2 separate regions of the Homo sapiens genome follow, and region 1 is linked to region 2. The links come from fine-mapping of genetic effects on gene expression. Tissue or cell type: whole blood. Region 2 holds a variant in brackets; the other region holds the start of a gene. All regions are shown on one strand. Distances are between the middles of the regions.

The links. PIP is the estimated chance that this variant, and not a neighbour inherited with it, causes the effect.
Region 1: it holds the start of ZXDC, and the variant in region 2 is fine-mapped to the expression of ZXDC in whole blood (INTERVAL, PIP above 0.99).

Annotation. Positions count from the first base shown.
Region 1 is chr3:126,472,246-126,480,424 of GRCh38, reverse strand. It overlaps ZXDC (ZXD family zinc finger C), which reads left to right and starts at 4,534. Exons shown (of 10, transcript NM_025112.5): 1 at 4,534-5,466; 2 at 8,120-8,179. The coding sequence starts at 4,560. RefSeq lists silencers at 4,265-4,774, 4,845-5,104 and an enhancer at 5,662-6,187.
Region 2 is chr3:126,440,781-126,448,959 of GRCh38, reverse strand. ZXDC (ZXD family zinc finger C) reads left to right here. Exons shown (of 10, transcript NM_025112.5): 8 at 7,014-7,195. Among named protein-coding and RNA genes, the nearest start is that of ZXDC, 31 kb to the left of the region's middle. RefSeq lists enhancers at 1-632, 7,082-7,717. The variant C/T (reference allele first, on the strand shown) is at 4,705.

The sequences.
Region 1 (8,179 bases), 31 kb before region 2:
CTGGCCCCTGCATGCCAACCTGCTGTCTGCTGCTGCAGTGGTAAGTGACAGCTGACTCCCACGGGGCTCACAGCGGAATTGGGGCAGCTGGTCACAGCTGTAGTCGCCATGGAAGGAACAGCGTGGCTTCTGATGTGCCCAGTGCCATCTTCTTTTTCAGAAGGCAAGGATGTATAGTCCAGTTAGAAATGTTTTCATCAAAATGATTAAAAGAGAAACCAGTTGGCCATGATGAGTGTAGGGTTCAGTTGCCTTAAGAGTTGGAGGTGAGAAAGGCTCAGGCCCTGCAGTACAGCATTAGGGTCCTCCCCCTGGGCAGCGCCTGCTCTCTGCAAACCCAGGGTCCCTGGGAACTGTATGCTTTCCTTGCTGGCAAGCCAAGGTCAGGGAGGGAGGGCCTGGCTGAGTGATGCACTCTCCCATTCCAGTTTTCCCAGAGTAGACAACCACACAGGGGCCTGTGGGCCGGGCATGACCTGCAGTTATGTTTTATTTATATATTTTTTAGAAATAGGATCTTGCTCTGTCACTCAGGCTGGAGTGCAGTGGTGCAATCATGGCTCACTGTAGCCTTGAACTCCTGGGCTGAAGTGATCCTCCTGCCTTAGCCTCCCAAGTAGCTGGGACCACAGGAGCACAGCACTACACTCAGCCTGCAGTTGTGTTTTGTTTGGTCTGTCCTGTTTTTAAAAAAATTTGACTTTGTCACCAATGTTTACAAATTGGGAGAAATCCAGAGCTTATTTTTTGAAAATCAAGATATAAGGTAACACCATGTTCTCACCACCTCTGTGGCAGTGATTTGCTGGGGGCCCCTCTGGGCTGGCCTAGCTCTCTGCACTTGGCCACAGTCCCTTCCAGTCCCTACAGAACCCATGGTGAGGCGGAGCGTGTATGCTGTTTGTCCCTTGGCATGAGAGTCTATGTTTCCTGTGCCCACCTGTCTCCCACATTTGTGTGACTTGTATGACCTCTGCTGGGATTTGAACTTGTGACCTTTGACAAAGAGATGCTCTTTTGCTCCCAGTGAACCTCATCCCCACTCCCATCAAAATTTGGGAATCCTGGACACTTCTCTGTTAGCAATCTCAAGATCCACATGATGCCTTTTAGCCCAAAAGAGGTGCTGGACATCCAGCGATACCTGGGCTGATGGGATTTCTCCCCAGACACAAATAAATCTGAGCGTGCATGCGTGTGTCATCTGCGTCCCTTCCCCTGGCTTCTCCAAAATCCTTTCCACACAGCCTGGAGAGTACAGGTCTGGCTGGCCAAGGCACAATCTCTGTGGTCCTTGTAATTTGGGGCACTCCTTTGAGACTACCAAGTTCAAGTCTCTGCCTGAGCCCCACTGGATGACCACATTGAGCTGACTCAAGCCCACCTGGTGAAGTGGCGCGTCTGACCCTCGCCAGGAGTCCTGTTGCTCCTTTCAGGGTATCTCAGCAGAAGGCTGAAACAACCTAGTATCTGAAACAACCTAGTATCAGATTTGAGCTTTGGTTGGGTGGGGGAGTCTTAGGAAGCGGGGATTTGCTCTGGATTGGCTCTTACCAGAAATCGGGTCAACACCATGACTAGGTTTCTGACTAAATCCTATATACAGAGAGGGAAGCACACAGACAGACAGGCTGTCAGGGGTACAAAAGCGGCGGCTGCTCACGTTAGCTGAGAGAGGGGCTGCTGGGTATCTTGTAAATGGCACAGCAAGTGACCTCGCTTTATCTGGGTGGAGACACATCATGAAGTGGCCTTGCTTTGTCTCATGTCATTGTGTTTCAGTGACCTTGGCCTAGGTTGGTTTTCTGCGTGATGGTTCAAGTCTTACAGAACAGAGTGGCCCAGCTGTAGCACCCGGCCAGTTTCTGGATGGCAGGGGCTGCCCTTTTTCTTTCTCAGTCCCCTTCATTTTACACATGAGGAAACTGAGGCACAGAGAAGTTGTGATAGTTTAAAAATGGCTGCAAATTCTTTCCAGCACCTCCCATTGAGAGGTGGAGTACAAGTTCCCCTTGCCTGGGTCTGCAGTGTCTTATGACTTCTTTGATCACGAGAATGTGGCATAATCAATGCTGCGCAACAAGTTGGGCATGGTGGCATATGCCTGTAGTCCAGTTAATTGGGAGGCTGACCCGGAAGGACTGCTTGAGGCCAGTTGGAGGTCGCACTATGATTGCACCTGTGAATAGCCACCACACTCCAGCCTCAGCAACACAGGGATGGACTTGCTGGGTCATGTGGAGATTATGTTTAGCTTTCTGCAGAACTGCCAAACTGTTTTCCACACCGCAACGTTATACATTCCCACCAGCCATATGTGAGAGTTCCAATTTTTCTATATCCTGTTTTTAAAAAAATTACCACTATTTGAGTAGGTGTGAAGTTGTATCTCACTGTGTTTTGATTTGCATTTCCCTAATGATTCGTGATGTTGAGCCTCTTTTTATTTGCTTATTGGCTGTTTGTATTATCTTCTTTGGAGAAATATGTCTATTCAAACCTTTGCCTTTTAAAAAAGTGGACTGTTTGTCTTCTTGCTAAGAGTTCTTTATATATTCCAGATAGTAGATCCTTATCAGATATTCGATTTGCACACCCTTCTCCCATTCTGAGTTGTCTTTTCACTGTCTTATTGGTGTCCTTTTACCTGAGTAAGTTTTTAATTTTGATGAAGTCCAAGTTATCTATTTTTCTTTCTTGTGCTTTCAATATTATATCTAAGAAACTATTCCCTAATCCAGGGTCACATAGATTTACACCTACTTTTCTTCAAATAGTTTTATGTCTTACGTGTAGGCTTTTGCTCTAATTTGAGTTAATTTTTGCCTCTGATGAGAGATACACGTCCAAATTGGTTCTTTTGCATGTGGAGATCCAGTTGTCCCAGTGCCGCCATTATTGAAATGACTATTCTTTCCTCTACTGAATGGTCTAGGAACAATATGTTTTCGGCATAAACTGATATATATAATAGATGTATCCTATTCTTTTTAATATTATAATTTGTGTTACTTAAAAAAATACTCTTAATAATAAAGCATTCATGTATTTAACAAATATGCACCAAGAGTCTTCCTGGGCACACACAGTGAATAGGACACAGTTCCTGGGCTCCAGGAGCCTACATTCCAGAGAGGGAGAGACAGTGAAGGAGCAGGGAAGGAACTCAACAAAACAACGGGTGATGAGAGCTCTAAGAGCAAACAGATCAGACAGAGGTGGGAATACGGGACTGGGTAAGCATGTGCTTTGGATCAGAAGGGGCGCAGAGTCCTCCCAGAGGAATCAGAGATCAGCTGCGCCAAGTCTCTGAGGCTGGAACCAGCTTGGCTTGCTGGATGAACTGGGAAAAAGAGGTGGGGTGCGGGGGAGGGGTGGGGGGGGCAGCGGGAGAGTGGCGGGAAGTGAGGGCAAACAGGTAGGGGAGGGTAGACTAGCAAGGCCATAGGCGCCTTCGGGAGCAAGGTGGAGGTGAGCATAATTTGATGTGCAATTTTTAGATCATAAAACGGTGCCCCGTGGATGGGAGCGAGTGGAGCGGAGGGAGACCGATGACCAGCTAGTAGTTATTTTTCAGGTACCCAGGAATAAAGTGCGGGTTTGGATCTGAGTGGTGGTGAAGTTGAAGTGGAGGAGTCCAGATTGAATGCGGAGGTGTACGGTGAGGTGGGGGAGGGTGAGGACCGGAAACAGTAAGTAATTAAGCTGTTGCAGAGTGAGGTTGTGCCAAGTTTAGTAGGAAATACAGTTGGAAATACAGGCAGGGGTCCTGCGTATCAGGGAGGCCCCGTGTGCCGAGCAAGGACCTGGGCCAAAGCAAACGAGGTCTGTGCGCCAGCGGCGGCAGGCGAGCTTGCACTTAAGTGAGCTGGGGGTAGGCGTCCGGCCTGTTGGACAGGTTCGAATCCTGGATCTGCCGGCTGCCGAGTGACTCGAGCTCGCCGTCCCTGTTTCCTCACCCCTGGGTGACCGCGCACGCTTAATCAGCTCGGACAGGTACAGCCCCTGGGACGCAGTCAATGCCTACGAGAGGTTGCCTGTTAAGTGTCTGAAATATTAATACGATTCGAAGTCAAGACAAGCCTCGTCTTCCACGCCAGCGGGAACGAGAAGGAATCGCTCAGCGTTGGGAGCCTCACCCCGTCCCCTGTCGGTCCCGTGCCCCGCCGCTCGCCCTCGTAGGTGCCGGCGCTCCGCCCCCCGACCCCGCGCCCCGCCCCCCGACCCCGCGCCCCGCCCCCCGACCCCGCGCCCCGCCCCCCGACCCCGCGCCCCGCCCCCCGACCCCGCGCCCCGCCCCCCGACCCCGCGCCCCGCCCTAGTCGGTCCCGGCGCCCCGCCCCCGCCTCCGCCTCCGGCGCCCCGCAGCCCAGCCTCACGTCACGTCAGCCCAGCAGGCCTCGCGCATCGCCCGGCGGCGTCCGCGCACGCGCGGTTCCGAGCCGGACTCTACGCCGGGGCTTGGCGCGGATCGCGTCCCGGGGCGGCGCACGCACACCTGGGCGGGGCGCGGGCAGCTCTGCGTCCGAAGCTGCTCCGACGCCGTCGCTGGGACCAAGATGGACCTCCCGGCGCTGCTCCCCGCCCCGACTGCGCGCGGAGGGCAACATGGCGGCGGCCCCGGCCCGCTCCGCCGAGCCCCAGCGCCGCTCGGCGCGAGCCCCGCGCGCCGCCGCCTGCTACTGGTGCGGGGCCCTGAAGATGGCGGGCCCGGGGCGCGGCCCGGGGAGGCCTCCGGGCCAAGCCCGCCGCCCGCCGAGGACGACAGCGACGGCGACTCTTTCTTGGTGCTGCTGGAAGTGCCGCACGGCGGCGCTGCCGCCGAGGCTGCCGGATCACAGGAGGCCGAGCCTGGCTCCCGTGTCAACCTGGCGAGCCGCCCCGAGCAGGGCCCCAGCGGCCCGGCCGCCCCCCCCGGCCCTGGCGTAGCCCCGGCGGGCGCCGTCACCATCAGCAGCCAGGACCTGCTGGTGCGTCTCGACCGCGGCGTCCTCGCGCTGTCTGCGCCGCCCGGCCCCGCAACCGCGGGCGCCGCCGCTCCCCGCCGCGCGCCCCAGGCCTCCGGCCCCAGCACGCCCGGCTACCGCTGCCCCGAGCCGCAGTGCGCGCTGGCCTTCGCCAAGAAGCACCAGCTCAAGGTGCACCTGCTCACGCACGGCGGCGGTCAGGGCCGGCGGCCCTTCAAGTGCCCACTGGAGGGCTGTGGTTGGGCCTTCACAACGTCCTACAAGCTCAAGCGGCACCTGCAGTCGCACGACAAGCTGCGGCCCTTCGGCTGTCCAGTGGGCGGCTGTGGCAAGAAGTTCACTACGGTCTATAACCTCAAGGCGCACATGAAGGGCCACGAGCAGGAGAGCCTGTTCAAGTGCGAGGTGTGCGCCGAGCGCTTCCCCACGCACGCCAAGCTCAGCTCCCACCAGCGCAGCCACTTCGAGCCCGAGCGCCCTTACAAGTGTGACTTTCCCGGTAACCGCGCTCTCGGGGGCGGGCGGGCTGCGCGGTGTTGCAGGCAGGTCTGGGGTGCCACGTCCGCCCCACAGAGGGGCCTGCCAGACCTTAGCAAGCCGGGGACGCAGGCTCTTCGGGATTTGTATTCTAGCTCCTTCCATGTCATTCGATTTGAGATCTTGGCCCTGCCCTGCCGCAGGGATTCCGATGGCAGGTAGCGCAGATCACCACAGCTGCGCTTCCCAAAGGTGGCGGCAACAGATATCCTTAACCTGCTTGTGCTTGATGAAAGCGGCACGCATCTTCACAGAGTGGCACGGAGCTATGTGTCAGGTCTTTATTTTCCTCAGTCTCGTCATTTGTTTACGGGGTGCACACTCCGTGCTAGAGGAGCAGAGATGAATGTGGCCAGATTCAGGACCTTAACACGCTGGGAGGATAGCCACAGGTGTGCGCACATCCTGGCTTTTTTTGCCTTTTGCACTTTGATTTCCGTTGAACCTCACAGTTTTGTGAAGTTTTAAAAATTAGCCGTCTGTGAAGGTTAAAAACTGTCCTCTTTTACAGATGAAGAGACAGAGGCCGAGCCTTGTGGATAAAGTCCACTGCTGGTGGCTGGGCGCGGTGGCTCACGCCTGTAATCCCAGCACTTTGGGAGGCCGAGGCGGGCGGATTACGAGGTCAGGAGATCGAGACCATCCTGGCTAACACGGTGAAACCCCGTCTCTATTAAAACTACAAAAAATTAGCCGGGCGTGGTAGCGGGCGCCTGTAGTCCCAGCTACTCGGGAGGCTGAGGCAGGAGAATGGTGTGAACCCCAGAGACGGAGCTTGCAGTGAGCCGAGATCGCGCCACTGCATTCCAGCCGGGGCGACAGAGCGAGACACCGTCTCAAAAAAAAAAAAAAAAAAAAGTCCACTGCCTGTTCTTTCTCCTGTGTGTTGACCTGCAGTTGTTGGGAATGTAGGACTCCAACACAGTGAGCTCTTCACCAGGATGGGCAGCTTTCCCTGCTTTCACAGGGATAGGGTTCCTCCAGAAGGGCAAGAAAGGATTCCTCCCTGGAAAGGCAGAAGAATGGAGTCGGCTGGGTGGCAGAGCCCAGGTGGGGATTGTGGTCTGTGGTGAGGGCCCAGGAGGAAGGACCAGTCATTCAAACAGAAACTGGAATGTGTGCCTAGCATGCCCCTAACCTGTATATGCACACGGCTCTCCTTATAATGTCCTTAAACAAGAATTTTTAAAGGATGAGATGAGAATTATGAACGGGTTTTATTATTTTTTCCCTCGCATATGCCTGTGGACTGTCTTGCGCATTCCTCTTCAGAGAGAATGTGGCTTGAGGCCACTAGCTCAAAGTCTTTTTCAGTCATACACTCTTGGGAATCTGATGGTGGCTGTAGACCCTTTCCCTGCTAAAAGAGTATCATTCTGTGTATGACACTGGGAAGGTCAGGGATCCCGCCTGCTTCCAGGCATGAGGTCTCTTGAGGGTTTTGTGTTGGCTGATCCATGAGGCTTCTTGTGTTGAGATGAGATTAGATGGTTAGATGAGATTAGATGTTTAGAAGCAGGAGCAGGACCAGGGAAGCATCATCAAAGGGCCCAGACCTGAGTTTTCTGAAGGCCTGAGCCAGGGAGTGGGAATGATGAGGGTCTCTAGCAGGTGAGATTGCAGAGGGAGAACCAAAGGGTGTAATTATCTATGGGGGTGTGGGGGGTTCTTGCCAAGGCAGAGAGAGTCTGTGTTCAGATTTACATGACCAAGTGTGTGAACACACCGAAGCCCAAAATACCCTGGAGGTATTTTGGGACCAGATTGAGGCCAAAGATCAGCATTTCTGAGTTAGATGTTGCTGGGGAAAGTAGGGTTCCTTGGGCTGATACTTTTGGGCAGTGCTATGCCATGTACATCTGTGTGGCAGTTCATAGGCATGATAGTATCTCGTTAAAGGCTCCAAGAGGAGCTGCAGCAAAGACTCCTGTTAAACATCCTGCAGCCTCATGTTTTCCACCCTGTTGGAGCCCTGAATGTTTCTGTCGGAGGAGAAGTATTGCTGTGGAATTGTTGAGGCTTAGCTGCTTTGGCCAGGGGTTAGGATTGAGGTGAAGATTACAAAGCAGGGAACCTAAGGAAATTGCGAAAGGAAAAAGAATCCAAACAGCAAGGGACAGGGCTGGCAGTTGGAGGGTGTCAGGGAGGAAATTTGGATATGTAGAGGATGCAGCATCACCCCCAAGGGGTGAAAAATCCTGGCTAGTAGGATGATTTGTAGCCTTTCAAAGATCAACCCTACCAGACAAAATCTTGTTCCTTAGTATTTGATTTCTCTCATGGGGTTCTTGGGTCTCAGTGTGTGTGCAGGATCAGTGCTCCGGAGCCGGCCAGTAGATGGCTGTGAACGGAGGACTTTCTCTTTATCGGTTGCTCCATCTCCAAGTCATGTTGCAACAGGTGGCCAGCGTGTGCCTATTGGCTGCCATTAGCTGCCTTCCTGTGGTGATCACAAAGCCAAGCATTAATGGTCTTCCCTTTTTAGAGAGTGCTTCTGAGTCATGTTTTCCCTTGTCTGCTTCAGTGTGAACAGGGTCTGGTGGGTGTGACTAGCATTAGCTATGTTGTATAATTTTTGCCACGCTTTGAGCAGGGTTTGTGTTTTCCTTGTTCAGGCTGTGAGAAGACATTTATCACAGTGAGTGCCCTGTTTTCCCATAACCGAGCCCACTTCA
Region 2 (8,179 bases):
GGCAGTTCCTGCACCTCCTGCCGTGTGGATGCTGGCCGTTGCTGTCTGACTCGCATTCTTGGAGACACTGACCCAGGCTCCTCTCAGCGCTTCCAGCCAGGTTTGGCAGTGGGAACATTAGGGGGAGATTAGAGGGTGTGTGGAGCGAGGCAGGGCCTCACTTGCTCTGCTTCCGTGGGAGTTTCATGGCGATGGCCGTCTACCCTCATGGCTGTGGCCCCAGTTCTTCCTGGGTGGCCCCTGCTGTAGTTCTGCTATACGCTGTCCCTGTTCTGGACTCTGGTGACGCCACACCTTCCCTAGTCCCTCCAGCCCTAGGGGTGGCAGCCCCACGACGTGCTGGTCTCTGGTGCTTGCTTCTTAGTGCATGGCCGTGCCATGCCCTGGTGCCTGCCCGGGATGCCTGTGTGGAATGCCCAGAGTGTTCTAGGCAGGGTCCCCTCTGTGATTAGCTCCTCAAGGGTGGTGTCTGTGTCACAGACACTTTGGGGTCCTGTCAGTGGCCTCTCGAGGCTCCCAGGGTACCCTGTACTTTCTCACCCCTTGTTGCTCATCTATTGTGGGTTTGTCTGTGTGCTGCAAAATGCACGGCTGTACTGAGCGCACCAGCCAGCAGCTGTAAGCTCCATGTGCAGGGCCACCATCTGGCCGAGCACCTGCCATGTGGTGAAGATACAGTACATACTTGTTGAATGGGTGATGAAACTTGCGCAGACCTCAAATAAAAGCTAATAATTTAATGTATAAAGCTAACATACCCTGGTTCTAAAACTTGACAAAGGTGTGATAACTATTGAAGACATACGGTGTGCCCTGCACAGTTCTAAGCCCAGCACATCTACATCTATTACCCCATTAGTCCTCGCAACAATCCTGTGAGGTGTAGGTCCTCGTGTCCCCACCTTTCTGGATGAGAAAGCTGAGGCAGGAAGAGTTCAGCCAGGGCTGCATAGCTGGTAGGGGCAGGGGCAGCGGCAGGATTGAACCCAAGGCCGGCTGCCCTCAGAGCTGTTACTGAGCCTGTTGGCCACGTGGTATGCAGGAACACTGTGTCTCACCTCCAGCAGGTGAAGCAGGCATGGGAATCCCAAGTGAAATACCAGCACATGGACAGCGGGCGAGGGTGATGTGGGGCGAGGCAGCCTGTCAGCATGATTTGCCACAGCAAATGCCGCAAGAGACGTGCAGGGTCCACAGAGGCCGAACAGGGCAGTTGATGACATTCATCACCTGCTACTGATTTGAAAACATCACAAATATGAATCAACTAGGAACCCAGATTTCCCTAATACTAGAGAGCAGCCAGCTGTCAGTGGCATTTTCAGTGGAGAGATGTTGGCATCCCCCCAAAGCTGGAGGAATGGTAAACCAAACCATTGGCGCAATCTATTTGACACTTTTATGGAAGTCTCTATTTTTAAAGAAGCAGAATCAAATAGAAAGGAGAGAATGATGATTACTTAATGACAAAGTCATTGTCAGGCTTAGAAAACCCAGGGGAATCAACTCAAGCAATTAGAAATAAGAAGGATCAATAGATAGCTAATTGCACAGTACATATTTGTATATATAAAATTAATAGATTTTCCAATAAGAATAATTGTGAAAAACTGACCTTATTCATAATGACAGTAAAAGTAATAAAATATGCCAGGCTCACTCATGACAAGTGTGCTCTGAATGGGTAAGGTCCTGTGTAGGGTCTGCCAGCTAGAGATGCCCAATTCTTGTTCACTTACATACTTTATTCAGTTCCTGTAAAATCCCAGAGTAACTTAAACACCTGTCTACTTTAAGTTCATCTGGGAAGGTAGCTTGGTGAGAATACCCATGAAGGCTGTGAGATGGGAGGAGGCAGTCGGGTACTCAGGGCCTGCCAGATGCCCTGGAGGAGAGAGTGCCCCTGCAGAACAAAGGACCTGTCGTGTGAGCAGCACATCCCTAAGCAAAGGGTGAGCACTCAGCACAGGCAGGGCTGGTCATGTGGGTTTACTCTGGAAGAGATCATTGTGGGTTCCTTATGCTTTCTCCCCTGTAGCTTCACCACCCAAGAAAAACTACTTACAGTGTTTCAGTGTTAAACTGAATGAAACCTACACAAATGTGAAATCTGAAACCTACACAAATGACTTGTTTTTGAAAAATGATAAACATTTTTATCTGCTTTTTGTTCTTAATATGAATATTTTTCCTTGTGGATAAGTATATTAACATATTATATCTTTATAAGAGCTGTGTTGAACTAACCATGTCAGGGACCTAGTGAGTTAAGCCCCAGTGACCTCTGATCTTCCACCCTTGGGAGAATTGGGAAAATAGTCACTTACCTCCTGTTCAAGTGAGGATCTCAGTAGAGGAAGCTCGCATGACCCCCTGTGGTTATCAAGGGAGGGGCCTGAGCCTCATCTGTGCAGATCCTTTCTCGGGGCACCTGGCTGGCTCTGAACTCTGTCCTGTGGCAGGCACTGCGGTGCTACTGGTGTGGGGATGGCATGCTGTTTGAGCCAGGCCCAGTGCTGTTGACCTCACCTAATTCTCGTCATGGCACGGTGAGGTGAAAGCAGTGTGGCCATCTCCATTCACCGCAGATGATGGGAGCTGAGTCACATAGCTGGATCGTCCAGCTCCCAAGCCGGGGCCCTTGACCACTTTGCTATTTACCATCATACCTAGATAGGACTCTTCCTTAAGGAGTCCTTCCTTGCTTCCCAGGAGGTTGCTTGGTGTTGGATTTATACTGCTCCTCTCCCCACTCCTGCAGATTCTCCAGCACAAGCAAGCATTTTGGATAATGATTGAAAATATTGAAGCAAAATGTAGTTCGGTGTTGTTACCTTGTTCTATAAGGGTTTGTGGTTGTCCATTGTGAGAGAGGAATTTGATTTTTCTTGTGACTGCTTTATTAATTAAATTGATCATATTGCATTTGATGCCATGGCGCCCTTTACTAGTGAGGACCCAGGGCTTCATGGTTATCGTGAGGACGTGGTGTGGACCCCATTTGTTTGCTTTGGCATGTCCTTAAGCATCCCTAGATAAACATACTTGCTTAGTTAACCCAGGAAGTTTATGATTAACTTTCAGCCATCTTAAATGTTCACGACATACCACCAGACTTCAGGGTGTACCGTCAGGGATTCTAGGACAGAACACCCTGCTCAGGCCTGGGGGACAACTCAGCAACTGGGGCTTGGCCCCTCCTCCCCTGGCTGCCCTGTTCTCTCACAGCTGTTGGCCTGGACCCCTGCATCCTTTCCAGGTTCATCTTCCAGGTGCAGTCCTTGCTGGAACGGACTCTCTGAGAAGGGGTGTCCGAGCTCATCTGTGGCAGGTTCTCCCCCTCACCCACAGCTGTCCTTCTGCTTGCCAAAAAACGGGGAGGCTGCAACTCTCCACCAGACTTCTACTGCAGTGTGTTGCCTTGGAGTGCACACAAAAACAGGATATCCTTCCAGAGCACCAAACCCAGGGGCAGTTCCAAATACTGGTTTCAGGGAAGCATCCTGTAGAATAATACCGACATTAAAACTTTAATGAGCCGGGCTTGCCAGCTTACCCTTCCTGTGCAGAGATGTGTCTAGGGGTGGACGCTGAGATGTTCTGCTTGAGGTACATCAGAGAGGGGATGTGGGGCATGGATGGACATCTCTCGTAGAAAGTCCTCACCTTTGCCAGCCCTCTGCTGTTGTCAAAGAATGTATTACTTTTCAGGAATGAGCCCTATGTATGTATAAGCGTGAGCAATTCTTTTCAGCTATTGACTTTTTATCCCTAGACGAGTTGTTAGCTGGGAAGAAAAATACCTTCTGATGCAAATTAGTGGTGGTGTTTCTTCTCAGTGTAACTGGTGTCTACAGGACTACCTGAGACACTGAATTAAATGTGCGGATTGAAAAGAAATTCCTGTGATTTTTTTTCATATTGTATGCTGATACAGAAGTTGAAACCAATTTAGCTTGTCATGAGATATTCTCGTTACAGCCTATCTTTTTTCCTGTTGTAAAAGTAATACAAGTAAATTGTTAATAAAGATAGAATCATTTTAGTTACTGGTTTAGGTATAAAAGGAAAGTGTAACCATGTCTAGCAACATTAGTGGAATTATTTCTGATTTTGCACCCAATTCTGATTTTCCCATGATTCGAATGGCACATACATTCTAGCACACATTTTGCAAAGGAATATTAGGATTCAGTCATATTTCTTGCTTTGTAGGTAACTTAGAGCGTGGCGTACACATTTGGCATTGAATCATGATGAATGGCTCAGTTTTATCTTGTTTATGTTATAAAACTTGATAATAAATACTTGATATACATCATTTAAAATCTTGCCTGCTTTTAAAAGAAATCTGGAGAGATACACTATTCACTGCCTGCCTTAATTTATTCTACAGTGGTTTTCATATTATTATTATTTTTTTTTTTTGAGAGGGAGTCTCGCTCTGTCACCCAGGCTGGAGTGCAGTGGCATGATCTCGGCTCACTGCAAGCTCTGCCTCCTGGGTTCATGCCATTCTCCTGCCTCAGCCTCCCGAGTAGCTGGGACTACAGGCACCCGCCACCACCACTGGCTAATTTTTTGTATTTTTAGTAGAGACGAGGTTTCACCGTGTTAGCCAGGATGGTCTCGATCTCCTGACCTTGTAATCTGCCCGCCTTGGCCTCCCAAAGCGCTGGGATTACAGGCGTGAGCCACTGCGCC[C/T]GGCCAATATTTCTAATATAATAACATGTTTCAGTATTTTTATTTGAATTTAAAAATGAAGCCAGGCCTTTTATTAGAAAGCAAGCGTAATGCGACTGTTCTGGCTGCAGCACCGGCCCTGCTGCTGGGGCTTCGTGGGCAGGCAGTTCCCCCTCACTTGAATAAACTCAACCTGCAGCTGCAAAGTTGTGATGACACATGAGCATCTTATTTTAAAAAAGTTTTTAATTGACAAGAATAGATGCTGACCATGTCTAATTCTAGCAAGAAGTAATATTTAGACACAAATACATGAACTAACTGGGGAAGAAAACCACCAGTCAGTCCCACTCCTCTTGAAAAGCATTTTTAATATAATTTTGCTTTTAATATCATAATTATCTATCAAAGTTTCTGATATATTTTGTTTTGATTTGTTTTGCATTACTAATAATTGCAGTTGTAACAGTTCAAACCAAAAATGTTAATGCCTAGAAGTTAAATAAAAGTTAAGTTTATGTACATATTTTTATATGCTAGGGTGATAAAAGACTTGAAAGCATAGAAATGCATTCAGGTAAAATTCTGGAGGTAAGTGGGATAGTATACAAGCTCACGGAGGATATAGGCACGCTTCATTTTTTGCAGTTGACTTTTTTTTTGCTTTTTACAAATTGAAGGTTTGTGGCAAACCTGTATCCAGCAAGTCTGTTGGCACCATTTTTCCAACAGCATGTTCTCACTTCATGTCTATGTCGGTATTTGTTAGCAATAAAGTATTTTTAAATTAAGGTATGCATTGTTTTAGACATAATGTTATTGCAGACTTAATAGACTGCAGTACTAGGAACTGATGTGAAGTTTCCTCAAGGAGGGGTGAGTAAGTTTTGTGCCCCAGGCACCTCTCTTGCCCCAGACCCAGCCCTGCTCTTCTGTCTGAAGCAAGTAGAGCAATTAGAAAAAGAGAAACCAGGCGTGGAGAACAGTCAGAGATGATCCAGAGCGAGGGTTGCTGGGTTTTCTGGAACACTGATGGATGAACAGAAAGGAAGTATTTTGTAATGGAAGTGCATCTCCCTGCAGTGAGGGGGAACTGAATCTGTGTTACCCAGAAACCTCCTGGTTAGCATTTGCACTTCAAAGAAAAAGAGCCCTGAGGCACCCAGAAAAGACAGCAGGCTGTGCCTAAGTACAGAGGACCCAAGGTTTGTGCACCCAGTTGGCTTGCCTGCTGAGTGTGAAGCTCTCCGGGACCCAGGGCACTGCGGAAGACAGGAAGGGATCTGGAGTGAGGTGAGCAGGTCAGGGAGACAGCATATGCAGGGCAAGTCAGCTCTCACCCCATGGGCTGCTCAGAACCTTCCTGTCAAACAGCCTCGTAAAAACAGCCTGCCTTGGGCAGCAGGGTCACCCAATTGAATACTTTTATTAGGAATAACTTATATGATAGTCATTGTACAGTTGTTTTTTTGAAGCCGTTCATAGCTGGATCCCACACATCCAGGCAGGGATGTGTGGGCAGAGCAGTGACAGTGCCTAAACTCCTTGGCACTCGCCAGTCACTGTTCTAAGTTTTGATCACATATTTCCTATGAAATCCTCTCCAAAACCTTCCGAGGTTGGGACTAGCATTCCCATTTTACAGGTAGATAATGCTGAGGCCCAGAGCTTGAGTTCCTTTTCCAGATCCCTGGAGCAGAGTGGGTGGCGGGTCAGGGTGAGCCTAGCCGGGGTCTCTGCAGTGCACGCTCTAGGCTACCTTTGGGCCCTTTTGAAGCAGCTCTTGGGTTTGTTATGGGTGTTAAGATTTTTTCTTTTTTCTTTGTGCTTTACTTCATTTCTTAAGAAGCACATATTTGTAAAACCCATGGAGTAGTGACTTGGAAAGGAGCTGGACAGAGGCAGCAGTCCACCCACAGGTGGGGTATGGAGACCGCCCGCTTCCTTCCTATTCCATGATGCTGTGGCTCTGGGCTGTTGGCTGTCCTCAGTTGCGCTTGGGATTCCTGCCAGCCAGCAGCTGCTGGAGTTAGAGGATTCTGCTCTCCAAGAATTTGCAGCTTGTGTCTGATTACCGTACCGTCTGGCAAAAAAATACGTATGATGTTTTTACATTTTTAAAATCAAAATCCTGATGTTTTTTTGTTCGTATGGTTGTTTGTTTCAACCTCTTAACTCTTGATTTTTTCTGTTAAGTGATTTTACGTCTCTTAGCTGTGCAGAATGACAATTAATGGGAAGGCTGTCTTCCCCATAGTGAGACCTTGGTAAGGGCAGACCTGACTGGTAGATTGTAGATTGGGTGTGCTCGTTTTTATATTTCATTTTAGGAGCCTCACAGTCTACTCAGAGAAAAATAAAAGAAGGCAAAATGAGTCCTCCCCATTTCCATGCAAGCCAGAACAGTTGGTTGTGTGGGAGCCTCGTGGTGCCCAGCGGAGGACGGCCAGGACCAGCTCCAGCAGCTGGGGTGCAGTGCGGGGCGCAGGGCGTCCAGGTCCAGCTGGTGCAGGTGAGAGCTGGCCAGTCACACAGGCCAGCTGTAGGCGGGGTGGGAGGGTCACGCAGGTCTGAGCAGTGTGCGGCATGCTGCATCCCCTGCCCATCGCAGCACCCCCTGCCTGCCTGCCCCTCGTGCATCCTCCCCTGTAGACTGCCCCAAGTCCTGTCTCCTCACAGCCCAGCTCCTCCCTTTTTCCCAGCCTGTCCTGCATCTGCTCAAGCTCTGAGTGTTGCTGGGACCGTGCATCCACTTCCTGAACCTGTCTGTGCACAGCCCTGCGTCTAGCCCCAGAGTAGCCCGCCTCCCTGCCCGAGGCCCCCAGGGCTGTTTTGCAGCAGGATGAGATCTGTTTGAGGCCACCCTGCCCTTCTTCTGCAGGGCTGGGGCAAAAGGGCTCCGCAGGCCGTCTCAGCCACCCCATTTCTAGGGCGGCCTGCTTGTGGCGCACTAGCAGCCTTTCTATGCTGAAGGTGGTGGGGGTCTTTTCAGTGTTTTTCTATTTTCTTTCCTACGAAACAGAGCCCCTCCAGGGCAGGCCCAGGCCCCTCCCAGCCTGTCCGGGCCACAGATACCTGCAGCTGTGGCCAGTTTCCAGGAGGTCTTTGAGCACACCTGCTTCAGCAGCCCTGAGCACACCTGCATCTTCAGTCTCAGTTTGAGGGGCTGGAATGGGGAGGGAAGATGATTTGGAAGGATTTGGGGAGAGAAGAGATATACAAGCCGGGGCTGTCTGGGTTTGGCCCAGGTGTGTGCCCCTCTTCACCACTCCACTTTGTAGATTCCCTGTGGCAGGGGATGCGGTTGCAGGCCCCACGGAAGTGCGGAGGGTGGAGGTGACGCTGGCTCTGAGTTGGGAAACAGGCACGTTTGTGGGTTCAGAGTCCTGGGAGAGTCTCGCCAAGGAAACAGGACCAGGCCTGGGGCTCAGAGAGGCAAGAGGAGGGGCAGCCTGGGCAGAGGTGGGCTGGGAAGGGGGCAGGGAAGAGGCTGCGG